Homo sapiens: one gene and its partners. The protein of the gene in region 1 purifies or fractionates together with the protein of each later gene. This does not show direct contact. Each region holds a gene or a part of one and is shown in the gene's direction. Other genes may lie near its edges. The genes, in order: SLC2A5, ALG1, FADS3, SMIM8, SLC25A17, COQ8B and RBFOX3.

The links.
Region 2: the proteins of SLC2A5 (region 1) and ALG1 purify together in Homo sapiens (affinity purification with mass spectrometry; one large-scale study listed by BioGRID and IntAct). This does not show direct contact.
Region 3: the proteins of SLC2A5 (region 1) and FADS3 purify together in Homo sapiens (affinity purification with mass spectrometry; one large-scale study listed by BioGRID and IntAct). This does not show direct contact.
Region 4: the proteins of SLC2A5 (region 1) and SMIM8 purify together in Homo sapiens (affinity purification with mass spectrometry; one large-scale study listed by BioGRID and IntAct). This does not show direct contact.
Region 5: the proteins of SLC2A5 (region 1) and SLC25A17 purify together in Homo sapiens (affinity purification with mass spectrometry; one large-scale study listed by BioGRID and IntAct). This does not show direct contact.
Region 6: the proteins of SLC2A5 (region 1) and COQ8B purify together in Homo sapiens (affinity purification with mass spectrometry; one large-scale study listed by BioGRID and IntAct). This does not show direct contact.
Region 7: the proteins of SLC2A5 (region 1) and RBFOX3 purify together in Homo sapiens (affinity purification with mass spectrometry; 2 studies listed by BioGRID and IntAct, with this or other methods). This does not show direct contact.

The regions. Positions count from the first base shown.
Region 1 is NC_000001.11:9,041,890-9,045,669, reverse strand, and holds part of SLC2A5 (solute carrier family 2, facilitated glucose transporter member 5), read left to right. Parts: intron 1-3,732; coding exon 3,733-3,780. UniProt on the Homo sapiens protein: Functions as a fructose transporter that has only low activity with other monosaccharides. Can mediate the uptake of 2-deoxyglucose, but with low efficiency. Essential for fructose uptake in the small intestine.
Region 2 is NC_000016.10:5,074,587-5,078,366, forward strand, and holds part of ALG1 (chitobiosyldiphosphodolichol beta-mannosyltransferase), read left to right. Parts: intron 1-801; coding exon 802-950; intron 951-2,858; coding exon 2,859-2,948; intron 2,949-3,320; coding exon 3,321-3,431; intron 3,432-3,780. UniProt on the Homo sapiens protein: Mannosyltransferase that operates in the biosynthetic pathway of dolichol-linked oligosaccharides, the glycan precursors employed in protein asparagine (N)-glycosylation.
Region 3 is NC_000011.10:61,881,390-61,885,169, reverse strand, and holds part of FADS3 (fatty acid desaturase 3), read left to right. Parts: intron 1-3,780. UniProt on the Homo sapiens protein: Mammals have different sphingoid bases that differ in their length and/or pattern of desaturation and hydroxyl groups.
Region 4 is NC_000006.12:87,339,481-87,343,002, forward strand, and holds the end of SMIM8 (small integral membrane protein 8), read left to right. Parts: intron 1-635; coding exon 636-794; 3' UTR 795-1,745; coding exon of another isoform or gene 1,746-1,841; 3' UTR 1,842-2,849; downstream 2,850-3,522.
Region 5 is NC_000022.11:40,816,361-40,820,759, reverse strand, and holds the start of SLC25A17 (peroxisomal membrane protein PMP34), read left to right. Parts: upstream 1-1,413; 5' UTR 1,414-1,511; coding exon 1,512-1,565; intron 1,566-3,382; exon of another isoform or gene 3,383-3,557; intron 3,558-4,399.
Region 6 is NC_000019.10:40,713,862-40,718,168, reverse strand, and holds the start of COQ8B (atypical kinase COQ8B, mitochondrial), read left to right. Parts: upstream 1-1,282; 5' UTR 1,283-1,582; intron 1,583-3,049; exon of another isoform or gene 3,050-3,116; intron 3,117-3,533; 5' UTR 3,534-3,536; coding exon 3,537-3,638; intron 3,639-3,771; coding exon 3,772-3,891; intron 3,892-4,035; coding exon 4,036-4,102; intron 4,103-4,307. Other genes in the region: ITPKC (inositol-trisphosphate 3-kinase C), read right to left, coding at 1-1,033.
Region 7 is NC_000017.11:79,608,252-79,612,460, reverse strand, and holds the start of RBFOX3 (RNA binding protein fox-1 homolog 3), read left to right. Parts: upstream 1-1,409; 5' UTR 1,410-1,635; intron 1,636-3,299; exon of another isoform or gene 3,300-3,390; intron 3,391-3,847; exon of another isoform or gene 3,848-3,943; intron 3,944-4,209. UniProt on the Homo sapiens protein: Pre-mRNA alternative splicing regulator. Regulates alternative splicing of RBFOX2 to enhance the production of mRNA species that are targeted for nonsense-mediated decay (NMD).

The DNA.
Region 1 (3,780 bases):
TCAAACTCCTGACCTCAGCCTCCCGAAATGCTGGGATTACAGGCGTGAGCCACCATGCCCGGCCGGTCTCTGCCATCTTGCCCTGACCTGTGGGTTTTCTCTGCAGTGGGCTCAACATTTTGAAAAATACATTCCTAAAAGTTGCCACCAGTAAGCAGGTCCAATCACTTTTCTATTGACCATTAACAATACAGAATTGTTTCCAGCAGAGAAATATTAGGCTCCAATAGATAACAAATCAGTTAAAAATCCCAGCCTTTACTCTAAAGTCAGCAGTTCTCAGTTTTTGGTCTCAGACCCCTTTACACACTTAAAATTATTGAGGGCTCCAAAGAGCTTTTGCTCATGTGGGTTACATTGATCAATATTTACTGTATTAGAAATGGCAACCGAGAGACATATTAATTCATTTTTTAAAATAAGCCTATTACATGAAGAGTGGCCTTGTTTGACATTTTTGCAAATCTCTTTAATGTCTGGCTTAATAGAAGACAGCTGAATTCTCAGATGTACTTCTGGGTCAGGTCAGTTGTGATGTGGCCTGGCAAGAAGTCTCTGGAAAACTCCCATATGCTCATGAGAGAGAGAGAATGAAGAGCAGATATCATCTCTGGATTATTATGAAAATAGTTTTGATCTCACAGACACCCTTAAAAGGTCTCGGGATCCCTGGGTCCTCAGATCACGGCTTGAGAACACTGGCCATTAGGGGCATAATCCATTTGCCAACAGTTTTTCACATACCTCCAGCAAGTCAGCAAAGTGGATCATCAAGCTGTGTGCTGCTTAGACACTCATTTTAAAACCACGCATATGGCCGGGTGCAGTGGCTCATGCCTGTAATACCAGCACTTTAGGAAGCTGAGGCAGTTGGATCACTTGAGGTCAGGAGTGCGAGACCAGCCTGGCCAACATGGTGAAACTCGGTCTCTACTAAAAATACAAAAATTAGCTGGGCATGGTGGAGTAGGTCTGTAATCCCAGCTACTAGGGAGGCTGAGGCATGAGAATCGCTTGAACCCAGGATGGGGAGGTTGCAGTGAGCCGAGATCGTGCCACTGTACTCCAGCCTGGGCAACAGAGTGAAACTCTGTCTCAAAAACAAAACAAACAAACCAACACAAAAATAAAACCACCCATATGAACAAGAACCACATTGCTCACTCTAAAATGAAGTAAACAACTACCTTGACAAGGGGGGTGCCAAGATGAGTATGACTTTTACTGGAACATGCTCACAGTTCACTGATTTGTTACTAATCAACTTCTTGGCAGGAAGACTGAAGGTATTCATTGGCTCAGAGGAATTTAAACTTTTTGTTTGTTTGTTTGTTTGTTTGAGATGGACTCTTGCTTAGTTGCCCAGGCTGGAGTGCAGTGGCACGGTCTCGGCTCACTGCAAGCTCCACCTGCTAAGTTCAAGCAATTCTTGTGCCTCAGCCTCCTGAGTAGCTAGCACTGTAGGCATGTGCCACCGTGCCCAGCTAATTTTTTTGTATTTTTCATAGAGATGGGGTTTCACCATGTTGGCTAGGCTGGTCTCGAACTCCTGGCCTCAAGTGATCCACCTGCCTCAGCCTCCCAAAATGCTGGGATTACAGGGGTGAGCTACAGTGTCCAGCAGGAGGAATTTAAACTTCAAAAGCCAGGCCAGGCACGGTGGCTCATGCCTGTAATCCCAGCACTTTGGGAGGCCGAGGCGGGTGGATCACCTGAGGTCGGGAGTTCAGGACCAGCCTTGCCAACATGGTGAAACCCCGTCTCTACTAAAAATACAAAAATTAGCCAGGCGTGGTGGCGGGCGCCTGTAATCCCAGCTACTCAGGAGGCTGAGGCAGGAGAATCACTTGAACCTGGGAGGCAGAGGTTGCAGTGAGCTGAGATCGCACCACTGCACTCCAGCCTGGGCGACAAGAGCGAAACTCGCATCTCGAAAAAAAAAAAAAGCCACTTTGCTCTGATTCTCGTATCAGAACTGGCTGGCTGGGAGGTCCTAGTGGAGTCATTTTAAAGACAAAAATAGAGATTGCTTTCCACCAACGTACAGGTAACCCCATCTCTTCACAAACCTCCTGAGGTTTGACCCTTTATTAATATCCTTCACCAAGATGCTCTTGCTGCTAAGTGGCTCTTGTTAAGTGGTGAGGACACAGCCTCCCACTTCAGCTCCCAGGAGGCCTTCCTTTCCTCTGCAGCCCTTTGCCCTGGGCCTGTGAGGTGTTGCTCCCTCTTCCCACCTAGACATGCTAAGAGCTGCTTTAAAGACTGCCCCTCTTTGCTCTGCAAATGAGGAAGAATCGATATTAATGAACTGTGATGTCTCTTTTCAAATACTGAGCAGAGACATCTGTGGGTAGAATTGCCAAACAGGAAAACATGGCCTCAGGTACCCTCCTATCTCAGTTCTATCAAATACCCCGCCATCAACAGCAGCTCCAACCTCTGCTCACTCCAAACTCTGTTCCTGAGAGCCTCCCTTCAGAGACCCACGTCCCTGAGCCTCCATTTGACTCAGGATTTGGTACCTGATACTTGGACTAGTGAAACTTCCTCTCCATCCCCAGCCTCTGGATGTGCTTTTAGGAGAATTAAATAGGGCAATATATGTGAAAATACTTTGGAAGCTGCAAAATTAAATTCTGCCTATGTTTTTTTAATTGACATCAGGCAACACGTCATTCTATAAAATAGAGTAAGTTTTCCCTCCACCAGATTCAAGTATGATGGGAATATTTACAAGTTTAAATACTGGGGATTCAGAAGTAGTCCAGGCATTACAGAAATCCCAGAAATGCAGATATTCCGTAATATGTGTTGACATTTTAAATGCTTATAGAGACATATAACTTGTTCTTAAAGGTGTATGAAACTATCTCTGCATTGGTTTATTTACTGTTCCTATAAGGTAAAGCTGGGGGCTAGGGGTCCTGGGCCATACACACATACACACACATACACACATGCCATATATATACATACACATACACATGCCCTATACACACACACACACACACCCAGGCCACACACACACCCACACACACACATATATATACACATACACACACACACACACACAGAGGCCATATATATATATATGTACACACACATGCCATATATATATACACACACACACACACACCAGGCCATGTCCATATACACATACACACACACACACAGAGGCCATACACACACAGACATACACACCATATGTAAATACACACAGGCCATATATATCATGCGCGCGCACACACACACACACATATACATATTTTTAGTGGAAACGGTTCCACTATGTTGCCCAGGCTGGTCTCAAACTCCTGACCCCAAGTAATCTATCCTCCCCACTTAGCCTCCCCAAGTGCTGAAATTACAGGCACGAGCCATCACACCCAGCTGCCTTGCCTTTTATGAAACAGACCCTCCTCAAAAAGCAGAAACGTGAGTGGGTCTAGACTCAGGCCAGGGAGCGGGAAGGCCGTAGATCCAGCTGGCCAGTGTCCCCAGATGATATGGGCCAAAGCAAGGGCCCCTGTGCATGAGCTCCTTTGATCTGTTTCTCTTTCCTTAAAGTATAAAGGGCTAAGAATTAAAAGAGGTGTTTGCTTTCTCCTTTGCAGTTTTGAGAGAGTTCTGGCCCAAATAATGTTATTGCTAAGAATAGTATACTTGAAGACAGCTTGTCCCTGCCAGACTAATTTTTTCTGATGGTGTTTCTATTTCACCTCCTCCCAGGTGTATCTTCCAACGTGGTCCCCATGTACTTAGGGGAGCTGGCCCCTA
Region 2 (3,780 bases), on another chromosome or scaffold:
GCGAGCATATGCCTTTTGTATAAGTCCAGTTTCTTTCTTAGGGTAACTTCCCAGCAGTGGAATTGTGTAGTCAAAGTTGATGCATTTTAAAAATGTGTATGTTACTGGATAGCTTTAGAGTAAGGTTGGGTCAGTTTGGCCCCCGCTGAGTGGGGGTACCTCTTCTCCCCCATGCTTACCATCACCAGCTGTTGTTAGACCTTTTTAGAATTTGCATTCCAACAGGTGAAAAATGCCATCTCTTTGTTCTGTTTTTTGCCTCCTTGATTATTGATGATCTTGGACTTTTCAGGTTGGTTCTGTTTGTTTGTTTGGTTTTTGTTTGTTTGTTTTAGAGGCAGAGTCTAGCTCTGTCGCCCAGGCTGGAGTGCAGTGGCACAATCATAGCTTAACTGCAGCCTCATCCTCCTGGGCTCAAGTGATCCTACCTCCTCAGCCTCCTGAGTAGCTGGGGCTGCAGGTGTGTCCCACCACACCTGGCTAATTTTTAAATTTTTTGTAGAGATGAGGTCTCACTGTGTTTCCTAGGCCGGCCTTGAACTCCTGGGCTCAAATGATCCTCCTGCCTTGGCCTCCCAAAGTGTTGGGATTACAGGCATCAGCCACCGCACCTGGCCCATTCTGTTTCTTTTATGACTTTTTACATCTATTTTGGTGGTGGAGAGGGTCTTTCTTCTGCTTATTATCAAGAGCTCTGTAAAGATAACAGACTCATCACCATGTGTGTTGTGACTATTTTTACTGGGTTTATTGCCTAGCATGGTCTGGGTTTCCTCCCCTTCAAGTCTCTATCTTTCCTAGAACCCCCCAGGTCTGCCTAGCATTGCTGTCTGCTGGTTCGTGGGCTGCCTTTGTGGAAGCAAGCTCGTCATTGACTGGCACAACTATGGCTACTCCATCATGGGTCTGGTGCATGGCCCCAACCATCCCCTCGTTCTGCTGGCCAAGTGGTGAGAGTCTAGGAAGAGGGTAAAATACCGTCCCCTAAACCACTCAAGGATGAGTGAGAAGAAGGGCCATAGTGGGCCTCCGGAAGTCGGTTCCTTGTGGGCTCTGCAGGAGGTGGGGTGAGGCTGGTGAATCAGGCCGAATGCTGGTTCCAAATGATAGAAACAGGCCTCAGCAAAGGACCACATTTTTTGGCCCATGAAATGGAAGTGTCTGTGGAAATGGTTGGTTTCGAGCTCAGCAGTGTCACTGGGACCCAGCTCACGTCTGTCTCCACACTCCCTTCTGGTGGTGGTTCCCGGAACTCTCCTAGCTCTTGTCCTCACGTAGGCTCATTGGGGAGGGCAGCCCTTTCTGATTGGCTCATGTAGGTTACCTGCCTTCCTCTGATCTGCCTGTTGAGGCCAGGGGGCAAGTGCTCCAGCAGAAGAGCTGGGTCTCAGGAGCATCCATATCTCATGGACAGAGGGTGGGTGAGGGCAGATCCCCAAATTAAAACCCAGGGCTGCTGTTGGTAGCTGGAGAAGTGGGCCACAGTTGCTGCAGCTGATGTGACAGGGAGGGAAGAAGGGCCAGTGGTAGCAGTGGGACGTGGAGCTGGGAAGGTCATCTGCTGTCCTCTGAGCCCAACTATAACATCTCTGTTATACTCTGCACGGCCAGCCTTCAGGTGCACATCCAGCCTCCGTGTGCATGTCCAGCTGCTGCGTGTACTTCCGGCCTTGGGCCATTGGCTGGCTGTGGCCTTCGCCCTGATAGTTTGTTCACTGGCAGTGGTGACAGCAGCAGCAAACAGCTTAGTTGAGCAAATGGAGCAGAATGGTCAATGGTGAGCACCTGCTGCATGCCAGTCCTCCATCCAAGCCCTTTTTGTATTTTACCCTGTTCAATCTCTATGCACCTCAGGAGGGTGTACCTTTTACAAGTCAGGAAACTGAGGCTGAGAACGATTATGCCTCTTGCCACACAGCTAAGTGTGAGGACCAAAATATCCCAGGCAAGCCCATTTCCGAGCTTTCTCTGCATCTTGAGAGGAACAGGCGATGATACCCTGGCGGTGATAAATAACCCAGAATCGCGCATGCCGTGTTCCGGCTCTACCCTGCGATCAGGGCTCAGTCTCCGTTAGGAGAGAATGTGTACAATGCTCACTGAATCCCTTTGCCCCACGTTGAGAGCAAGCCGTGACCTTACAGCCTTTGCAGTGGTAGCACAGGGTGGCTGAGATCGCTAGTGAGGCCTTCATTGTATTTCTTCCTTTTTTTTTTTTTTTTTTTTTTGAGACAGTCTCACTCTATGTCCCAGACTGGAGTGCAATGGCGCCATCTCGGCTCACTGCAGCCTCCGCCTTCTGGGTTCAAGCAATTCTCCTGCCTCAGCCTCCTGAGTAGCTGGGATTATAGGCACCCACCACCACGCCTGGCTAATTTTTGTGTTTTTAGTAGAGACAGGGTTTCACCACGTTGGCCAGGCTGGTCTCGAACTCCTGACCTCAAACGATCCACCTCCCAAAGTGCTGGGATTACAGGCATGAGCCACCGCGCCTGGCCTGTATTTCTTCCTTTTACAGCAAGAGAGAGGATGTTCACTTTGGCAGTGATACACAGTGTCCTTCTATTTATTTTTTTAAATTTGTATTTATTTATTTATTTATTTGAGACGGAGTCTTGCTTTGTTGCCCAGGCTGGAGTGCAGTTTCCTTTTAAAGTGATTGTATTTAAGCCAACAAGTGACACAACATAAAGGAGGGTATATACAGCATAAAGAAAGAACACTGGCACAGCTGGGGCTCAGGGAGCTCAAACTCTCCCAGCTCTGCGGCCTTTTCTCTGTTGAGGGATGTCGAGTCACGCTGTGGTGGTAGCGGAGGCCTGTCTAGGGCTCTGCTGACTGCTGATCTCTCTTTTCAGGTACGAGAAGTTCTTTGGGCGCCTGTCCCACCTGAACCTGTGTGTTACCAATGCTATGCGAGAAGACCTGGCGGATAACTGGCACATCAGGTACCATGGCCTGGGATGACGGCGGCCTGGGAGAGGCGCGGGGCCCCTGATTGGCTGCAGTGAGAGCTGCCTTGCCTGCTGCCGTCCTGCTGAGGGGCAATTTGAAATACTGAGGGCCTGGGAGGTGGTCTTTGGTTTGGGGAAGCTGGGGGAGGAGGGGGCAGAGTTTCTTTCTTAGCCAGCCAGGGGGTCCAGGCAGTTTTGGTCCTAGGACGTCTCTCTGTGCATTCCCAAGTAATTGCAAGGCTTCTTCTTGTCATCATCTGAGACTTGGATTCCCCAAGCGTCCTTCTTTTCCTGGAGCCTCTGAGTCCTCTGTTCCTGAGGCCTTTCTTCAGCCCTCCCAATAGCCCCGTCATGATTTCATTGCAGGGCTGTGACCGTCTACGACAAGCCCGCATCTTTCTTTAAAGAGACACCTCTGGACCTGCAGCACCGGCTCTTCATGAAGCTGGGCAGCATGCACTCTCCGTTCAGGGCCCGGTAGGCCTCCCATCCTCAGCTGCCTTCTCTCCTGCTCGCCACTGCCCTGGCCTCTCCCCTTCTCACTGCAGACCTGGGAACCCACTCATCCAGGGGTTGGCAAACTAAGGCTACAGGCCAGTCTGCTGCTTTTGTAAATCAAGTTTCACTGGGACACAACACACTCATTGCCTTCTGAGTTGTCTACAGCCGCCTTTGAGCTGCAATAGCAGAATCGCGTTTTGCAACAGAGAACCTGTGGCCCGCAAAGCCTGAAGTATTTACTCTCTGGCCCTTTAAGAAATGTTTGTGGACCCCTGCGCTGTCTTACTCTCCTGCCAGTGGCTTCCCAGGCCTGTGGCAGGATCTG
Region 3 (3,780 bases), on another chromosome or scaffold:
ACTCTAGGCTTCCAGGGACCAAGGCCAGGCTGAGCTGTCTCTGTATCCTGAGAGAGCATGAACATCACAGAAGATGGGCCCGGGTTCGAATCCCAGCTCTGCCACTACTAACTGGGACCTGGGCAGGTGTCCCTTCCCGCTGAGCCTTCATTTCCTCACCAGCAAAATGGTTCGTGCCCCTGCTTTGGGGGCTGTGGAGGGTTGGCTCTTGTCTACTTGTTCATACCTGCTGTTGAGCAGCTGCTCTGTGCCGGCCTCTGAGGATGCCACTGTGAACAGAGCCTGTCGCTACCTCCAGGAGCTTGTGTTTAGGGGTGCCGTTTTGATTCCAGCACTTTCACCCAGCTCTGCTCCGGTACCCGATGAGAGACGTCGAGTGCCGCTTTCCACTCGCTTGGGTGCGTGTGGGGGTTGGGGGGACAGGGCTTTGTGCACGTACCCCTGGGTGGATGTTCCTGGGTGCACTTAGGGTGTGTGAGGGTGGGACCTCCCACAGTTCCCTGAGGCTCCACTGATGAGGTCCAAGAACCGCCTTCCTGCCCCCCAGCCCAGGCTCCCAGCAGCTGGGCCCTTGGCTTCTTGAGATAGTGACTGGCCTCACGGCAAGGACCCCCGCACACCACCTAGGAGAACTGCTGCTTCCCCTCTGTTCCAGGAGTGGCGACAAGCACAGTTTTTCGCTTTTGTTTTTGTTTTCTTCACTTTAAGTTCCGGGAAACGTGCAGAATGTGCAGGTTTGTTACATAGGTATACATGTGCCATGGTGGTTTGCTGCACCCGTCAACCCCTCATCTAGGTTTTAAGCTCCATATACATTAGGCATTTGTCCTAATGCTCTCCCTCCCCTTGCCCCTCACCCGCCCAGTAAGCCCCGGTGTGTGATGTTCCCTTCCCTGTGTCCATGTGTTCTCATTGTTCAACTCTCACTTATGAGTGAGAAGAGACCTGGACTCTGATCTAACCTCGGTCAAATGGAACTGTGTGACCTTGAAGAAGTAGCTTAACCTCTCTGAGTCTTAGCTTCTGCCTGGCACCCCCATCCTTAAGGAGAGGCCCACAGAGGACCAGGTCACATGACCTCAGCCAGTTCCAGAGAAGGCTGTTTGCTTCCAGGTTTCGGCCTGAGTCCAGGCCCCTGCCCTACTCGCACTCCCTGATAGCATGAGAAGCACAGCCCCAGGGTGCCCACCCAGCTCTGAGAGCCCAGCCTGCTTCCCAGGGAACTGTCACAGCCCCACCTGTCCCTTCCCCAGCTGGAGCCCTGTCAATGGCTTTGGGGTTCTCTGACACAGCCCTGAGGGGGCTCACACTTCCCCTTATCATTGCAAGGGGTAGATCTGGCTTGAAGGCCCTGGGGCAGGCTTGGTTCTGTCCTCCCCTGTCAGTGCCTCGACAGGGCTGGCCTGGGTGAATCAGGACCAACGGGAAAGGAGGCGAGGAGACCAATCTGGACCCAAGATCCTCAGCTCAATAAGGTGGCCCCAGAACTGACATGGGGTGATAGAGGGAAGGGCTGGGAGGGAGGAGATTCTGGGGCCGCAGCCACAGCTTGCACGTTGCGCCGGGTGTGTCTGTGCGTGCCAGCTGCATCTTTGCGTACCATGTGTGCAAGGCTGTGTTTGGCTGAGTGTTCATGTGGGCCGTGATTGTGGGCATGTTTCTGAGTGTCTGAGTGATGCCTGCTGGTGTGGGCTGGTGGGTGTGTCTGCATGTGCGTGTGTGTCTGGGGAGTTTCAAAGGAGAAAGAGGGACTCACCATCACGCTGGCTCAGCCTTAAAAAGGTAGGACATCCTGACACGTGCTGCAACATGGATGGACCTTAAGGACATTGTGCTGAGTGAAACAAGCCAGAGGCAAAGGAACAAACATGTGATTTCTCCCAGATGAGGTTTCCGGAGGAGGCAGATCTGTATGGACAGAAGGTAGCATGGTGGTTGCCGGGGCAGGGGGAGGAGAGAATGGAGAATTAGTGTTTAATGGGGACAGAGTTTCAGTTGGGGAAGGTGAAAAGGTTCTGGAGCTGGATGATGGTGATGGTTGGACAACACTGTGCATGCACTTAATACCACTGAGCTGGACACCTAAAAATGCTTACAATGGTAAATTTCATGTATATTTTACTACAATTTTTAAAAAATTGGCTGGGCGTGGTGGCTTATGCCTGTAATCCCAACACTTTGGGAGGCCAAGGCGGGAGGATTGCTTGAGCTCAGGAGTTCAACACCAGCCTGGGCAATATGGTGAAACCCCGACTCTACGAAATATACAAAAATTAGCCTGGTGTGGTGGCTTGCACCTCTAATCCCACCTACTCAGTAGGCTAAGGCACAAGAATCTCTTGAACCTGGGAGGTGGAGGTTGCAGTAAGCCGAGATCATGCCACTGCAACCCAGTCTGGGCGACAGAGCAAGACTCTGTCTCAAAAAATAAAAGATAAATAAAAAAATTAGAGGCCAGGTGTGGCTCACACCTGTACTCTCAACACTTTGGGAGGCTGAGGTGGGAGGATCGCTTGAAGTCAGGCATTTAAGACATGCCTAGGCAACATAGTGAGACCTTGACTCTACAAAAAAATTCAAAAGTTAATGAGACATGGTGGCATGTGCCTGTAGTCCTAGCTGCTGGGGAGGCTGAGGTGGGAGGATCACTTACGACCAGGATTTCAAGGCTGCAGTGAGCTGTGATTGCATCACTGCACTCCAGCCTGGTGACAGAGTGAGGCCCTGTCTCAAAAAAATTTTTCAGTGTTTTTCTGGGCTGGGCGTGGTGGCTCATTCCTGTAATTCCAGCACTTTGGGAGGCTGAGGTGGGTGGATTGCTTGAGCCCAGGAGTTTAAGACCAGCTGGGCAACATGGCAAACCTCATCTCTACAAAAAATAAAAATAAAAAATTAGCTGGGCATGGTGGTGCACACCTGTACTAACAGCTACGAGAGAGGCTAAGGTGGGAGGATCACCTGAGCCCGGGAGGTTGAGGCTGCAGTGAGCCATGATTGCACCACTGCACTCTAGCCTGGGCGATACAGCAAGACCCTATCTCAAAAAAAAAAAAAAAAAAAAAAAAAAAAAACACCCAGTGGGGTCAGTAGAACCCCAAGAGTCTTCTTCCCTCCCAGCTCCCCTGTACACCAGCCCCAGCTCTGCAGGTAGCTGGGGGCCCAGACAGCTTCCTGGGGACCCCCAGCCTTCCCTCTGCCCTTTTTTCTACCAGTTTTGCTGCCCCTCCTTCAAGACTCATGTCCAGAGGGGGTGAGATCTGCACTTATACAGCCCCCTCCTCTGTAATGAGTGAGCCAAGTCAGCCCAGGTTATTCCAGAAGGGGCACCCTACCAGCCCCCCAGTCCCCAAGCTGCCCTGGGCCTATAAAAGCAGGCAAGGGGACCCCTAGTAGATCATGTAGGTGTTACCTCTTAGTGGGTGCTGGAGGGGCCTGAAGTGCTTTCTTCCCCCAGGGTGGTAGGAGAATGTCCTGGCAGTGACTTCAGGGCCCGCTGTCACTTCCGTTTTAAGACTCACCAGCTGGTAGGCTCATTAGCAAGAGGACAATAGGAGGCCCCTGTCCTCAGTCAGCTTTCTTCAAAGGTGTTTCCTTTAGCAACTGGGAGGCCTCCCTTCTCCAGACCCATGGGGACAACACCACCCAGCTACTGGTTCTATAAGCTGCTGTATGGCTCTGGCTAGCCCATTCAGAGAAAGCCTCTGAAAGTACAAGGAAAAAAATCAGTCCAAGAGCTGTGAACAATTAGTGAGCCGATTACAATACCAAGACCACAGGCAG
Region 4 (3,522 bases), on another chromosome or scaffold:
ACTTTGCCTCTTAGGGTCTTGGATTGTCCAAGAGTAAATCAAGGTTAACAGCATAATAGCTGTTCCCATCACTAAATTTCTTGAGGTAATGGAGTAGTTTCCCAGAGAAGAGTGTATACATCATCATCATTTCTGTGCCTATTATATAAAAGGTTTTTTGCCAGTTATTCATGACTTGGGCAAGAAGAATAGCATGTCTAGTTCATTCCTCACTTCCTAATAAAATGAACTAATTTGAAGTTTGCAAATGGAGAGACTTGGGCCCAGGACCCAGGAAGTTAAGCAGCTCCTCCACTTCACCCAGATAACATTGAAAACTCCGGGTGCTGACCAGTTTTCCTGCCCCACTCCTTTCCCAGCTGTCACCTTCCTGAGAGTAGAGGTCTGAGATGTCCAGGGTGTAGATGGGAGAAAGCCTGGAGAGGAGAAGCAAGAGTCTTCTATAATCTCTAGATAATCAGTAGCTTAGCTAATTGAATAAAGAACTGAATAAATGATTTTAATTGAAATATTGCCATGGTAATGCTAGTGTTGTAATAAAGATGTGGCATGTCAGGAGGAAAGTGCAACCGATATTTGGGTCTCCTCAAATTGTTAGTCTTACTAAAGCTTTATAATTTTTTTTTCTTTGACAGAACAAACCTGTAATGGCTTTCGGATTGGTAACTCTTTCACTTTGCGTGGCATATATTGGTTATCTACATGCAATACAAGAGAATAAAAAGGACCTCTATGAAGCTATTGATAGTGAGGGGCACAGTTATATGAGGCGGAAAACATCCAAATGGGATTAGTAGTGCTGGTTAGTGCAGATGGACCTTTATTAAAGGTTCTGAAATCTTCAAATGAAAGACCTTGTGAGTGTACAGTATCATGTTTCTTGTTCTAGAACATGCTAATGAAGAGAGAAGATAGCAGTTGCAACCAGACAACTGTCGTAAATTTTGTCCTTTCACAGCTGCAGCCATTATCTCATTCTTTTTCCACAGAGTGAGCGTCATAATATTTTTCTTTCCTTACCTCTTATAAAAGTGCCATGAGAATGGAAGTTGTTTTTGTTAATTATTAAATTCTGTATAATAAAAGTACCCATGCTGTTAAATTTGCATGATGTTTTAAATATTTTAAGATGAATTATGCCGGTGCAGCTGTCGTGAAAGTTTACTTGTGTTTTGCTACTTGCAAAGGAAATGTTCATGTTCTCCCTGGCATAGAACCTATATTTTTAAAGAAAGATAAATAGAAATTTTAAGGCCTGAAGTCAATATTAAAAATATGAGATATGAGAAACTGAGTTGGCTCTGACAAGTAGTTTTTATAGTGTCACAAATGGTTCATATATTTCAGTTTCCATTTTAGCTATTTTTGGGACAGAATTTTATTTTAATGGAAAAGATCCTTCCACTCAGCTACTAAAATAAGGATTAAGAATATCCCAGAGTAATTGGAGTTTTTCTTTAAAAAAAAAAAAAAAGTATGTTTTACTGAGGTATGATGATTTTGACTACAACTAAATGTTATCTATTTTAGTGTTTATGTTAATTAATGTTAATTAATTTTGTTTATGTTAATTTGTGTTAATTAATGTTACTGTAATGTTATAAACATAAGACCAAGTGTTCTTATAGTTATTTAAAAACTACAACTACTCAATGGATAAGGAATAGATAAGGTCTCCTTATTGTACCTTTTTTTTCTTTTGAAGTTTATATGCCAGCAGGCCTTTTTGTTTTTTTCCTTTTCAGAATGTTTCTTATTCTCTGAAGCATCAGCATTTTGAAGTGTCTTTTATGGAAGTGGGGACAGAAATGGGGGTAAAAATGAGTGTAAACAAAGCCTAGCCCTACGGTCAGTACCCACTGGAGGTGAGAAGCAGAATGGCCTTGGTTGTCCTGGCACCTGGCCCAGGGGCCTAGGACAGAGGTCAAGGCTAGGCCCCTGTGTCTGGCCAGATTCTGCCTTATAGAATTCAAATCTTTCTTACAAGGGTTCTGGACCCGTTTCATTTCTAGATATATACCTAATTCTCCAAATCATTGTCATTGGGCCTCAGTAGTAAATCTTACCTCTGAAGTCTTGCTTCAGTCGCTATTAATATTACCAAGTAATAATAACAGCACAGGCAGAGTTTATCATAATGTTATTTTTAATTTGTCATACTTTATTATGGTTTTGTAAGGTACATGAAAATGTAATTATGTGTGATTTGTAGGTATTAAAGAACTTAGCTAATTGAATTTACATGAAACTAAATAAAATCTTTACTACTGAGCCCCAAATATGTATTTGCTATGCCTGTCTGTATAATGTACTTCATATAGTTTAAAATGCACTTCAGTGATACAAAATCCCTTTTAAAGACTCTTTTGTTTTTGTTTTCCCTGTGTATTTTGGCTATCACAAAACTAGGGTTCTTCTGTTTTTAACTTATGCATTTAATGACACATTGCCATCTTTTAGAATTTTTTACTATTCAACAGAATAAGCTGATGTTTGGTGGCAGAGGAGTTATTAGTTGCGTGAACTGTCAAGAGATTGCAGTGCAGGAGGGCAACAGAAACTGTACAAGGTGCAGACTTGAGTCATGTAAGATCTATGTGAATGAACCAAAGTAACTAGAGTCAGTCAAGCACAAAGCTGTGAAAAGTAGTGTGTGGAAAGAATCATACTGAATTTTAGGAACAAGTACCTGACTATGATACTTTTTACAGAGTGACTACAAGTTGTAGGACAGTCTTTGTGTGTGCTGAGTGTCAACAGCTGCCTGCCTATGTGTTGATGTTTTCATCCTTTCTTTGTTGAATGAGGGTATAACCATCAAAAATAAAATACCTTTCAAATAGTCCAAAGATTCTGAACATTGAACTTCACCTGATCCAATCCTGTCAGTTTATGGTTAAGACAATAGGCTGAGAATGGCTAAGAGATTTACCAAAGATCAGGGAGATTCTCAGTCAGGAGTAGAACCTGTATCTTCTTGCTCTAAAGTCTAGGGATCTTTTCACCATACTATACCACCTTCTATGTGTAAATGTGCACATAATAATAAAGCAGCCACATTAGCCCTTAAAAATAAGAAGTTTAGATCTTAAGTAGAGAAACACTCCTGTACTTTAAAACAGAATTATGTAAAGGACTGTTAACTGCCAGCTCCCTCACAAGACCATCAGAACAACCTGATGATCAAACAAAACTAAGCTTATTAAATCTACTGCACTAAAGGGAAATACCACTTTTACAAAGTTAGCTGTATTTAAGAATGGGATGGTCAGGGGAAGATATTAAAGTCTTTTGGAAGTCTGAGTTCAAGTGATTAAAGAAGGGTCTTTCAATGCAGGAATCTGGTTGAGAATGGGCAAGGTACCTGACAGAACAGATTAGATCTTGAAGCAAGTCTTGATTAGTAAACTATTGTTCAATAAATGTTAAGTGAACTCTTTGCCCAGGGGAGTAGTCTAATCTTCTGATGGAAGAGCTGTTTGCCTAGATCAGCAAGCTGTCCAATTGATAAATTGTTTTTCA
Region 5 (4,399 bases), on another chromosome or scaffold:
ATTTGATCAGGAGTCAATGAGAACTGAGTTCTCAAGTTTTACAGCCAACTAGTTTCTATGTTCCCATGCCAAAATAATCTTTTTTTTTTTTTTTTTAGGAGTCTCACTCTGTCCCAGGCTAGAGTGCAGTGGTGCAATCTTGGCTCACTGCAACCTTTGCTTCCTGGGTTCAAGCGATTCTCCTGCCTCAGCCTCCCTAGTAGCTGCAGTTTCAACATTGTAATTTCTACAAGGCGCGTGCCACCATGTCCGGCTAATTTTTTCTATTTTTAATAGAGACAGGGTTTTGCCATATGGGCCAGGCTTGTCTCAAACTTCTGACCTCAAGTGATCTGCCCGCTACGGCCTCCCAAAGTGCTAGGATTACAGGCCTGAGCCGCTGCGCCCAGCCCAAAATCATCTTCGCTTCACTTTTGGTCCTTCACTTTCACGTCATGATTCTATGGCGTGATGGGAATGTTCCTGGAAGCAGTATCTTCTGCAAATTTTGTGAAAACGGCCAGGTTAAACTTTGTTAGACCCCTCTCCCAGGGATTAAGTGTGATGATGGGCATAAAACACTAAGCCTGGCATGTAGTCAGCACTGAGGAGTTATCACGAGGATATTCTAAAAGGAAACATGGTAAAGACAAGTGGTGATGGTGTCTCAGGAAAGAATCCCTGAGTCCCTGAGGAGCATCCTGAAGCAGAATCTCACAGTATGACAGGTTAAAGCTGAATGTGGCTGCTTTAGTTTTGTGTAATTTTGTTAGTCACTTTGCAACATGGAAAAAAATTTTTTTCCTTCAGTATTTTATGAAGTACTACTACATAAATTGGCTTTCGTAATCCTCACAGCAGATGGGGATTGTTGGTACTAGTACATTGTCATTTCACAGAGGAAACCCAAGAGGTTAAATGACTTCCATAGTTGCCAACTAGGGGGAGGCTCCCACTCGCGTCTTGTATTTTGGGCTCCTGATGCTCAACATCTCTTCCCACCACACTCAAGGGTTTTTCTGGAGGAAGAAGTTTCCAAGTCCACAAGTGAGTTTTTTTCCTCTTGGCCAAAATGTGACTTTCAGAATAGAAAAGAGCTCAGGCGCAGAGAAACAGGGAGACTGGAGTCTCATTGAGTTTCCCCATCTTTGTCACCAGAGTAAAAGAAGGCCATTAAGACTTCTGAGATGGAGGAACTGGTCAGGGCCCGGGAACGCCAGAGAACGTCGGAGGAACCGGGAGCCGGGTACCTGGTGTCAGGCCGCCTTGCGCCTTGGAGCCCAGCCCCGCGAACACCTCGCTGTCCCGCCCCGCGCCCACAGGGGCCAATCAGCGTTCAGGGGCGTTCTTAGCCGCCCCCCCCCCCCCGCTTTCCCGCCCCGCGACCCGGAAGTGGTTCTAGGGCAGGCGGGCGGGTTTGAGAGGGCGGGGATTGCGACTCTCACACCCTGAGCTCCGGTGCTCCTTTCCTAACTCCACTGGCTGCGGCATCTGTGGGAAAAGTGTGGCTGGGTCTTCGAGGAGCCGCACCAATGGCTTCCGTGCTGTCCTACGAAAGCCTGGTCCACGCCGTGGCCGGAGCCGTGGTGAGACGGGGTCTTTACGCCCGGGCCGCAACGGGTTATAAGGCTTCTCGGGGGCCAGTCCCGGGATATGCCTGAGGGATGGGTCTGAGAGGGAGGTAGTGTGGGTTGGGGTCCACTGTCATGACTGTGGGGCAGAGAGGAATGGGCCATTGGCGGAAAGTTGTTGGAGGAATTCGGGGTAAGGGCCGAGACTCCGCCACCTCCTGGTCTCCTAGAGACTGCGGGGTAGAGAGCCGTGTTCACACGTGCCCGCTCAGGGTCCGCATCTTTGCCGTGGGAAGTTTAAGGTCAGGCTACCACCGCACACTCACACACTTTGCTTTACTGGCCCGGAGGAGAACGTAGGTGTGAAGCCGTGTTGCTTAGTCACATGCTTCCCTACAGCCTGTCTTCACGCTTGCCGCGGGCAAGTGGCAATACCTAGTAGGATAGCTCTGGGCACCGTTATTGGCAGGAGAAGATAGATCCTTTTTTTTTTTTTTTTTTTTCCGGACAGGGTCTTGCTCTGTTGCCCAAGCTGGAGTGCAGTGGCGCGATCACGACTCACTGCAGCCTCGATCTCCCGGGCTCCAGCGATCCGCCCACCTCAGCTTCCTGAGTAGCTGGGACTGCAGGTGTGAGCCACCACACCCGGCTACATTTTTAAAAAAAATTTTTGGGGTCTGGCAGTGTTGCCCAGGCTGGTCTCGAATTCCTGGCCTCAAACGATCCTCTCGATTTGGCGTCCTAAACTGCTGGCATGAGCCACTGTGCCTGGCTTTTTTTTCTTTCTTTCTAAATCAAGATCTGGGTTCCTGTCTACCACAAGTGTGGTTTGTTATGAGGTATACGCTTGATTCTTGGGCTTCTGGTGTCTAGGTTCCACTTGACACTTCCCCTCTCCCCTCTTTTCCTTAAAACTTTCCACTTTTGGCTTGGGTGACTCCTCTTGTGGTTCTTTTATCTCTTTGACTGCCTTTTCTCATATTCTTCACCAGTTGTTAGCACACACCTTTAGCTGTTAAAATCACTGTGACTTCAGAGGAACATCACTGAATCCTCTGTTTAGCCTCCAGAAACTTCACTGAGAGCTCACCTTCTCTGTAGACTAATCTGGATTTAACCCTAACTCCATCATTTGTTAGCTAGATGCCCTGTAAACCTTACTTTCTTAATCTGTAAAGTGGGGGAAGTGATACCTACCTCACAGAGTTTAGAGAATTAAGTGACACAGCATTTCATGAAAATGCCTAATTCAGGAAGCCTGGTTCATTCAGTTCAGCCAGAAGAGCCTTTCAGCCAGCATGAAGGCTGAGATGGACGCTTGCGTGACTTGCTTTAAGATGGGCATGGAGGCCTGTGTTTCCGGAGTGGAGGGAACAAAGAGGCAAATAGGTTTCAGGGGGCCAAATTGTGTGAGACTTTCACTCTGGCTAGCTGTTGAACTTGCTGATTTACCTTTAAACGTGATCACCCTGGCTGCTGTGTTGAGAGTAGAATGTAAGGGAACAGGGGACAAGCAATTATCAGGCGAGAGATGATGGTGACTTGGATCCGGGTGGTAGCAGACATGGTAGAAGTGATCATTGACCTGGAATATATTTATAAAATGAGGGTTGGTTGACTCCAAGAGTTTTTGGCTTCAGTAACTGGAGGGATGGTGGTATTTACTGGGATGGCAGAGGCTGTGAAGGAGAAGGTTTTGGGGGAAATGATAAATTTGGCTTTGGTTTTGGAGGAGTTTGAAATGCCTAAGAGTAGTCGTGAGACTAGATGAGCTCACTAGGGAAGTGTGTATGGACTGACAGAAGAATCTCAATGACTGAGTCTTGGAGCAGGCTAACCATTAAGAGGCCGAGAAAATAAGATTGCACCAGCAAAGGAGACAAACGAAGGATGGATCAGTACTGCAGGAGGGAAGCTAAGAACTAAGAGTGAAAGCCACGTGAAGAAAGTGTTTCTGGGGAAGGAAGTAGACCAGCTGGGTCAGATGCTGCTGATGGGTCAAGTAAGGTGAGGACTGAGAAATAACTGAGAATTTATCATGTTGATAAATCCAGTGGTTAATTGAAAAGACCAGTTTTGGTGGAGTGGTGGGGGAAATAGTTGGAGTGCATCTAAGAGAAGAAAGTGAGAAGATGGGAAATGTTTTTCTCTTCCTTCTTGCAATAAATGTTCATTAAACACCTTTATTGAGTGCATTCTATGTGCCACACGCTGTTCTAGGTGCAAGGAGTACAGTAGAGAAGGTCTTTTTCTTCATGAACTATGCATTGCAATAGGGGAGTCAGACAATAAATGAATAGGCTGGGTGCGGTGGCTCACGCCTGTAATCCCAGCACTTTGGGAGGCTGAGGCAGGCGGATCGCCTGAGGTCAGGAGTTCGAGGCCAGCCTGGCTAACATGGTGAAACCCCGTCTCTACTAAAAATACAAAAAGTAGCCAGGCATGGTGGTGGGCGCCTGTAATCCCAGCTACTCGGGAGGCTGAAGCAGGAGAATCACTTGAACCTGGGAGGCAGAGGTTGCAGTGAGCCAAAATTGTGCCATTGCACTCCAGCCTGGGTGACAAGAGCAAGACTCCGTCTCAAGAAAAAAAAAAAAAAACAATAAAAAATAAATGAATAAATAAAAAATAAGTAGAATAATTTTAGATACAGTTAAGTGCTATAAAAGAACATAGAGATTGGCAAACTTTTTAAAGAGAGCAGATGGGAAATATTTTAGGCTTTGTGTACCGTTGTCACAGCTACCCAACATTGCCATGGTCGTGTGAAATCAGCTGTAGACAGTAAATGAATGGACAGAGCTGTGTTCCAATAAAATACTGTTTTCAAAAACAGATATTAGATTGGA
Region 6 (4,307 bases), on another chromosome or scaffold:
CCACTGGCTGGGCCTCAGGCTCAGGGGTCTCAGGGGTAATGATGAGGCGGGGCACAGGGCACAGGGGGCTACACTTCAGGTGAGAGTACAGGTGAGTCAGCAATTCTCCAGGCTCTGGTTCCTCTAATGGGCCATCCTCAGGCTCTCCCAAGAGGCAGTCTGTCCCAGGTGCTGTCTGGGAACCGTCAGTGCTAGGTTGTGTCCAGGAGCCATCAGTATCCTGTTGTATTTGGAAACCACCAGTGCCAGGCTGTTTCCTGGCTGCTTCAGTATCCTGTTTTTTCTGGGAGCCATCAGTATATGGCTCTGTCCAGGGACCTTCAATATCCTGTTGTGTCCTGGAGCCATCAGTATACAATTCTTTCCAGGAGCCATCAGCACTTGGCTCTTTTGAGGGACAGGCTCCTTCTGGGTGAGTCTGGAGGCTGGAACTGTTCTGGTGGGTCCAGAGGTTATCAGCCCAGGACTTGACCCTCTCTGGCTGAGTCTGTGACCCATGCGTTTCCAGCTCTGTCCAGGGCCCATGAACCCCTGGCTGTGTCCAGGGGCTGGCCTCCTCGGGCTGAAACTGGAGGTCGGACCTGTGCGGATCAGTCCAAAGGCCATCTGTCCCGGTCTCCGTCCAAAGACAAGTCGTCTCCAGCTCTGACCAGCTCCATTCTAGATGCGTCCGGAGGCTGGACCTGTCTGGCTCCGTCTTTTGCTTGGGCCTCTCGGTCTCTACTCCAAGGCCAGCTGCCGCGGGCTCAGTCTGTCCGTCTGTCCAGAATTCTGCCTGCGGACTCTCTGTCCCCGGCGCAGGCCCGAGGCCGGCCCTCTCAGGCTCGCTGTGGAGGCTGGACCCCTCTGTCCGGGCCCAGGGCCCGCCCCCCTCCGGCCGCCCCGCCGGGGCCCCTGCGCCGGGCCCAGGTCGCTGCTGTCCCGGCTGCCGCCGCCGCCCTCCTCGCGGCGCCTCCAGTCCCATGCGGGCCGCCGCGGGCAGCGCCCCGGCCTCCGCCTCGTTCAGGCTCCCACGGCACGGGCAGCGCCTCATGCCCGCTCCTTCGGTTCGGGCTTCGGCCGACCCGGCCCCTCCTATCCCTTTAAATCCCGCGAGGGGTGTGGCTGGGGAGCCCCGACTCCCGGGTTCCGGCCCGCGGAGCTCCAGCCCGCCCCGCCGCGCAAGGGTTAACCGATACTCCCCTCAAAGGGGAAAGCCCCGAAGCCCCGCCCCACCGGACGTGACGGAACGGAACGAGACGGAGCCTTGTCCGACTCCGCCTCCCAAGGGGAGGGGGTTTGCCTCTGAGCATCCGAAGCGCGGCCAGGTATGCATCTAGGGCACCGGGGTCCTGGTGGCGCGCCAGTGGGCCCCCTCCCTCCACCCCTGTGACTAAACCACCCTCCCTACACGGTTGAATGACAAGTTCAACCTTCCCTAAAACCCCCGGTGACGAGTCCAGCCGCGCGCCCATTCTTCACGCAGGGGCGGGACGGACTTTCAAAGACTTGGAGTTCCCACGGGTGTGGGTTCGAGACCTTCCTCTGCCAGTTCCCAGCTCCGCTACCCTGAGCAAATGACTTACGCTCCATTGGATTTTCCGTAAGAAATCTCTGTCATGTATAGAGTACTTGTTCTGTATCAGACCCTGACACGATTTCAGTTCATTCTCCAAGGCTGAACAATAGGGATGCCAGGGCTCCATTTTACACGTGAGAACAGAGGCTCAGAGATCTGCCGGCCTCTACCCTTTGCTTGCAGCTACGGGGCTATCTGACATGATCTCATGTATGTGAAGCATGTGGCCCCGGGCCTGGCACTGTCAGTTGTAGCCCAGTAGGATTATTTATTGTCCTAGGTGATTTTGATATATTTTGCCCCCAAGGCTGAGCTGCCACCCAGCTCCTGAGTCAGCCGTTCACCTCTGAAGGGGGAGAGGAGGTGGTTTGTCTTGAAATTGAGTCAACTGGGGGAGACATTGGGCACAGGTCCAAGGCTCTAAAATGAGTCACCTTTTCACAGACCAATGAGAGAAATCGAAGGCAGGAGCCCACCTAGTACCTCATACAGGTTGGGAAGGAGAAGTCCAGAGAGGGATGAGGGCTTTTCTGAGGTCACACAGTACGGGAATAGAGACAAAGAGGCCTGATTCCCGACAAGAGGGGTTGGGGCAGCGGGGTTCTGTGGGGGAAGCATCGGCATCCCTCCCTCTCCCAGTGGTGGGAAAGATGCCCCAACCAGATGCCTCTATTCCAGACTGTGAGAAGTGGGTGAGTCAGCCTGTTGTGGGGAGAGCAGGCTTTCCAACGCGCGCGCGCACACACACACACACACACACACACAGAGAAAGAAAGATAGGATGGGAGGTGGTTTTCTGGGATGCCAAGGTTCCTGACTCAGCACTGGGAATCTTGGCTGAGTGTGTTCTGGGAAATGTCAGGCCTACAGGAAGCAGAGGGCTCCCAGTCGCACCATTCCGCAGGTGGGCGGGGAGCGGAGAGAACAGGGTGTGTGAGGGAACAGAGACTCAGTGTGCAAGTGGGGGGGAGGGTATGTACACGAGAGAGTTGAAGGCGTGAGCGGGAAACAGTTGGCAAGCAAGGCAAGGGATTTATATGCACAAGGAAGGAGGTTGGGTGCCAGAATGTGGGTGTTTGTGCAAAGTGGAGGGGCTCCATGTGCAAGGGAAATGTTTGCTGGGAAGAATGTGTATTCAAAGGAATTGTGTTGAGCCTGCCAGGGGTAAAAATAAGAAGGGGGGTTGGCAAGATATTCGTGCAGAAGAGAGGCGTCAGGTTTGTAAGGGAGACTTTGCAAGAAAGTGTAGGGAACAGAAGGGTCTGTCGCGTACAAGGCACTTTGAGGTGAGTGGAAGGGCAGACAGGGCACGCTTGCGCTCCCGCGATGCCTCAGCAATCCCCCCAGATGGGCCCCCGATGCCCACCTTAATTCCAGGCTCCATCGCTAGGGCCTCTCTCTGGCCCCTTCCCCCGCGCACAGATGGAGAAACTCCGTGCCAGTCAGCGAGTTGCTGCCGCGCCATTGGTTGGCTGGCCGAAGGGGGCGGGCATACAGAGGCTCCCGGAAGCACAGGAGGGCCCCAGCAGGTTGCGGACTCGGAGGCTGAGAGCAGTGGGTGCTTAGCAACGGGGGGAGGTGCTCAGTAACGGGGTGGGGATCGGGCGGGGGGACACCGGAGGAATTGCGGGTGCCTACAGGGCCAACAGAGGGGAAGGCGGTGCATAGCAACGAGGGGGGTTTCAGAGAAGTGGAGAGGTAGCCCCTGAGGAACTGTGGGTGTCTAGTAACGGGGGCGGACCCTAGCAACGGCGAGGGTTGGGAGAGGGGGGAAAGTGGGTTTTGGGAGGCCTGCAGGAAGAGCTAAGGGTTCCTAGCAACCAGGGGAGAACCAGGAGAAACTGTGGGAATCTATTAATAGTGGAGGAAGTATTTAGTGGGTGGGAATGAGAGAGGGTGGACACAGAGGAACATGGGGGCCTGGCCAAGAAGCCAGGCAACTCCCACCTGAATAATCCCTCCTCTTCTCCTCCAGGCAATGTGGCTGAAGGTGGGGGGCCTACTTCGGGGGACCGGTGGACAGCTGGGCCAGACTGTTGGTTGGCCTTGTGGGGCCCTGGGGCCTGGGCCCCACCGCTGGGTAAGAGGCTAGGGAGCAGGTCCCCAAGGGGAAGAGGCTGAGGGAGACTTCAGAGGGTAAAAGGACAGGAGGGGTCCAGAAGGGCCAGGTGATCCCATGTCCTCCCCTCCTTATCAAAGTATATCTCTTGCAGGGACCATGTGGAGGTTCTTGGGCCCAAAAGTTTTACCAGGATGGGCCTGGGAGAGGCCTGGGTGAGGAGGACATTCGCAGGGCACGGGAGGCCCGTCCCAGGAAGACACCCCGGCCCCAGGTATCATTACCCCCACCCACCCAGCAACACCCCACGAATACTGCTGGCCCCCTGAGCTTGGGGAAGGGTGTGGTGGCAGAGTGGCTGCACTCTCTGGCCACGATGCCCACTTTCCCACCCTCAGACCTTGTCCCCATTTCCCAGCTGAGTGACCGCTCTCGAGAACGCAAGGTGCCTGCCTCCCGCATCAGCCGCTTGGCCAACTTTGGGGGTAGGTGTGACTTTGGGGGATCTTGGTGTGACCTCAATTAGAAAGGGCAACATTTACAGATTGAAGCAAGGGAGAGGATGAATCAGAGACAGGAAAGAGAGAGAGACAAAAAAAGAGAGACAAAGGCAAGGGCCTGCAAGGCCAAGAGAAATCAAGAGGAACATAAATGATAATTTTTTTTTTTTTTTTTGAGACAGAGTCTCAC
Region 7 (4,209 bases), on another chromosome or scaffold:
GAGCCCCTACTACCGAGAAGCTCCAAATCCATACTCCCCTCTTCCTGGCCTCTGGGTCTTCCAGGCCCCTACCAAACCCCAGATTCCATGATGTGCTTTTCACCTCACACAGAAAAGCAGGACAGTCAGGTGCGAGGAGGAGGCTAATTGTTCCAGGAGCAGCCTTCAGGAGCAAAAGTGACATGGGGACGGGTTTGGATCTGTTTGTGTGTAATTTGGAAATGTCCTTCGATGGTGCAGGCTCGTTTCTCCAGCCTGGTTGCTGCACCAGAATGTCTTTTGTTTTGGAAATGATTACTCAGCCTCCTGCCTAAACCTGTTTGGGACCGTCCAGACCTTCTTGCCCACTTCTGGTGTTGTGTGCCAGTGGTGGGCTGACCCCAGCAATAGATCTCTCCTGCCTTTCCAGAGGGTCCCCACTCCACTGTGTCCTCAGCCTCTGCTCTCCTGCTCCCTCTGCACCAAGGATAGAGACCCTCCCAGAACTCACACCAGGCCCCTTACTCTAGATGCTGGGGGAGGCTGGGACTGGGGACAGGAGCTACCTGATCTTTTGATTTTAGGGAAATCCTAAGCTGACCTCCCACAGTCCTTCCTCTCCAGCCAGGCACAGGTGGAAATGTTTAAATGGGTTGGGTTGGCCAATCTGGACTAACAGCACGGAGTGGGCCCGATCCCTTCCTTTCCAGTGGTCCTCCAGGAAGTCAGGGCACCTGGGCCTAGTGAGGGGGTTTGGGGTATGTGGGCAACTCAAAGGCATGGCATGGCATGCGGGGTGGGGTGGCATTCGTCCCTGATGCTTGGTGACCACGTCCCATTGCTGGGGATCCCTGGGCCTGGCAAAGAAAAATGGCCCCCAGGGACAGCGAGGCACAAGGGCAGGGGTCCTGTTAAGGGTCACCTGGGTTGATCCGCCCCCAAGATAGCTTGGAGGTGGGGAGGGGCAGCGGGCTTGGGGCTGCCCTTGAAGGGACCAGGGCAGCACTGGGTTCTGGGATCTTCCGTGTGTACCCCACCTCTTCTGTGCCCCTGCCCCGAGGAGTTGGCGCTGAAGGCTGCAGGGTGCTGACCGCCGAAGCCCACCCGGTCATGGCTCTCCCCGCTCCGCCGCCCTCCCCGGCCGCGCGACAGCCAGAGCCCCCTCCCATGCCGCGCGCTGCGCGCTCCGCTCGAGCTGCCACCGCCGCCCGCGCCGCCGCCGCGTGCTCCTGCTGCCGCCTCGCTCCAGCCGAACGAGCCAGAGGAACGAGAGAGAGAGAGAGAGAGAGAGAGAGAGAAGGAGGGCGGAGAGAGAGAGAGAGAGAGAGAGAGAGAGAGAGAGAGAGAGAGAAGGAGGGCGGAGAGAGGAGGGAGGAGAGAGAGAGAGAGAGGAGGCGAGGGAAGAGCGAGCGCGGGGCTGCTCCGAAGCCAGCAGAACCTCCTCGGACAGCGGCCCCAGCCGGGCCCCAGCAGCTCGCGTGGTCGGAGGAGAAGCAGCTGCCACAGCTGCCGCCCGAGCCCGGCCTCGCGCGCCCCTTGCCGCTGGCTCGCCGGTGCCTGTGCGGCCCCAGGACGCCGCTGCCCGCTCGGCGGCCGGGATGCAGCCGGGGCATGGCCGCCGGCCCCCAGTCACCTGCCGCGGGGAGCGCTGAGCCCGTGAGTAGCCTGGCCTCGTCGCCCGCCTCGCTCTGCGGCGGTCATTCCCATCGGGCTGAGCTGGGGGAGGGGGACATGGCCGCGGAGGGGCGCATGGGACCCCGCAGTGGGAGGCGGGCTGCTGAGCGCGGCCGGGGCTGACCCGAGGGCGCGTGGGGTGGGGTGGCGCCCTCGGGGTCAGGGGTCCCTGCGCGGGGTCGGGGTCCCTGGGTCCCTCCGGGGCTGGGGTCTGGACGCTCTGTCCGGCCGTGGGCCAGAGGGGCGATTTTGTGAATGGGAAGGCCCGGGGGTCGGGCTCCATGGAGACGCCAGGGAGTCCCGCGCGCTGCGTGGCGGTGGCAGTGGCGGTGGCGGTGGCGGTGGTGGTGGCTGTGGCGGCGGCGGCGGCGGCACAATGCCCGGCGCGGGGAACTCCCCGGCGGGGGGAGGCAGAGGCGCGCGGAGATCCCGGCCCCGCGGGGCGCGTCCGAGCAGGCAGCCGGAGCCCGCGCGGGTGGGAGAGAGGCTGGCGACCCGGCGGTGGTGCAACGTGCGTCTGTCGCGGCACCCAGGCCCGGAGAGAGCCCTGCCGGGGTCCTCTGAAAGGAGGGTCGCTGAGAGGTTGATGACCCAAAGGAGTTGTGGGGAGGAAGGGGCTGCCACAGCTCCCCAAATAGGAGCGGGGCCCGCAGCACCGCGGTGTGCGCGGGGGCCGAGCAGCGAGGGGCGAGCGGCGCGCAGGGCCCTACAGGGGGCGGGCTGGGGGCGCTCCGGGCCGAGTCCCCAAGCACGATAGGAAGGCTGGAACGGGAGCAGAGGCTGCCTCTCTGAAGCCTCGGCCACCCCCAGGGCCTCGAGCAGCGCGGCCGGGCTGGGAAAGCCGGGCACGCCCCTGGCCCAAACTTTCTGCCCTGGTGGCCCCGGGCGGTGGTGGGGCTCGCCCGGGGCGTGTTGGGCTCGCACGCTCGGGAAGGTGGTCTTCTGTGGCGTCTCGGGGTGGCGCGAGGCCAGTGGTCATTTTGGTGCTGGGGGTCGCAGCCTCCCTCCCCGGGACGCGGAGCCTCCCCTGGCGCGCAGCCCTGCAGTGTCGGTGCGGGGACCGAGACGCGGCGCCCCGCGTGGAGGGGCATTGGGAACCTGTCGGGTCCCCAAGCGGCCCTGGGATCCCTGGTATCACGTAGGGTGGGGGTGGGATGTTCCCGGAGTCCACTGGTGGGGGCGGGGGCCCAGCGAGGTGGGGAGAAACTCCTGGACAACAGAGCTGCCTCCCCCTCCCCTTTCCGTTCCAGCTTTGGCGAGGTACCTGATTTATTTAATGATCACTTTTAAAAAGGAGTCCCGCGGAGCCGCTAGTCCCGACGCGCGAGACACCCCACGGTGGAGGCTAAGGACAGAGACCCAAGGGATCCATCCCTGGGTTTAAGTCCCCCTTCCTGCCCCAGCTGGTGGTGAAGTCGCTTCTCGGGCGCGCAGGTTGCTAATTTCCTGCTCCAAACGCAGGTTGGACTCGGGGACGCCTTGGGCATGCACCCGGGCGCCCCGGGCACTTAGCGTGGAGCAGGTAGGAGGCTAATGGAGTGGGGTCGCCCGTAATGAGGTCTTTCAGCCGGAAGCCGGCTTCGGTTTTACTGGTCTGCAAAACATAATGGAAAAAAAAAGTATAAACATTGCGGCAGAACCTGCTCATTAAGTGTGCATCGCGGATTCGGGACGGATGTCTTAATTAGGCTGCGTTGTTCACGGGGATATTACACTAATTAAAAACCGACCCTCCAGGTGAGCAAAAATTGTGAGGGGAGAGAGGGAGAAAAGTTGTCGAGAAGGCGCTGCCTGATGAAAGCCGGGTATGGGCCTCTTGCAGGGGCGCCCCAGGTCACTGAGCGCCGGCGGGGTGGGGGCGTGGGGGCGGCATGGCGGGGGCGGAGGAGGGGAGCCTTCTTAGAACCATCCCGGCGCGCCTTCCTTCTCCGCCTCCTGCGGGCGAGGAGCTCCCTTTGGCCGAGGACCGAGGCTGGCCCCCCCGCCCCTCCCCCAGGACTGGAGGCCTTCCTGCGTGGGCGCCTCGCTCACCGCTCACCGCACACTCCTGGAAGCAACGCTTAACCCTTCATTTCCTGGCTGACAGCTTCTGGGAGGGCAAGGCTGTCCCCAGGAGGGAGACAGAGCGGGTGACGTGGGGACCACTGAAGGGGTTAAGGAGCAAGAAGCACGGTTGAAGGGACGCACCCAAGCCGAGACAGCCTGGGCCTGGCGAGGTGGCTGCGTGCGTGCGGCAGGGGTTGCCACTGGTGCTGGGCTGTTTGCGCTTGCACGGCCGGGGTTTTCTGGGGTGAGTTGTCCATTTCTAGCAGCTATCCACCCTCCTCCCCCCAAAGAAAAAAGGGAACCTGGGTGATTGCTTTGATCCACCTTCCTCAGGGGCCTGGGGCCTAGAGAGACCCGTGCCCACCCCGGGGACCTCGGGTCGCCTCTGGGTGCCAGGAGGAGCCAGGAGTCCAGGGAAGTCCCTAGGCTCCGCCCCTTACTCGGATGGGCCTTTGCGGCAAATGCTCCGCACCCAGTGACCTCGGTTGGGAGCCACAGCGGGGCTGGGAG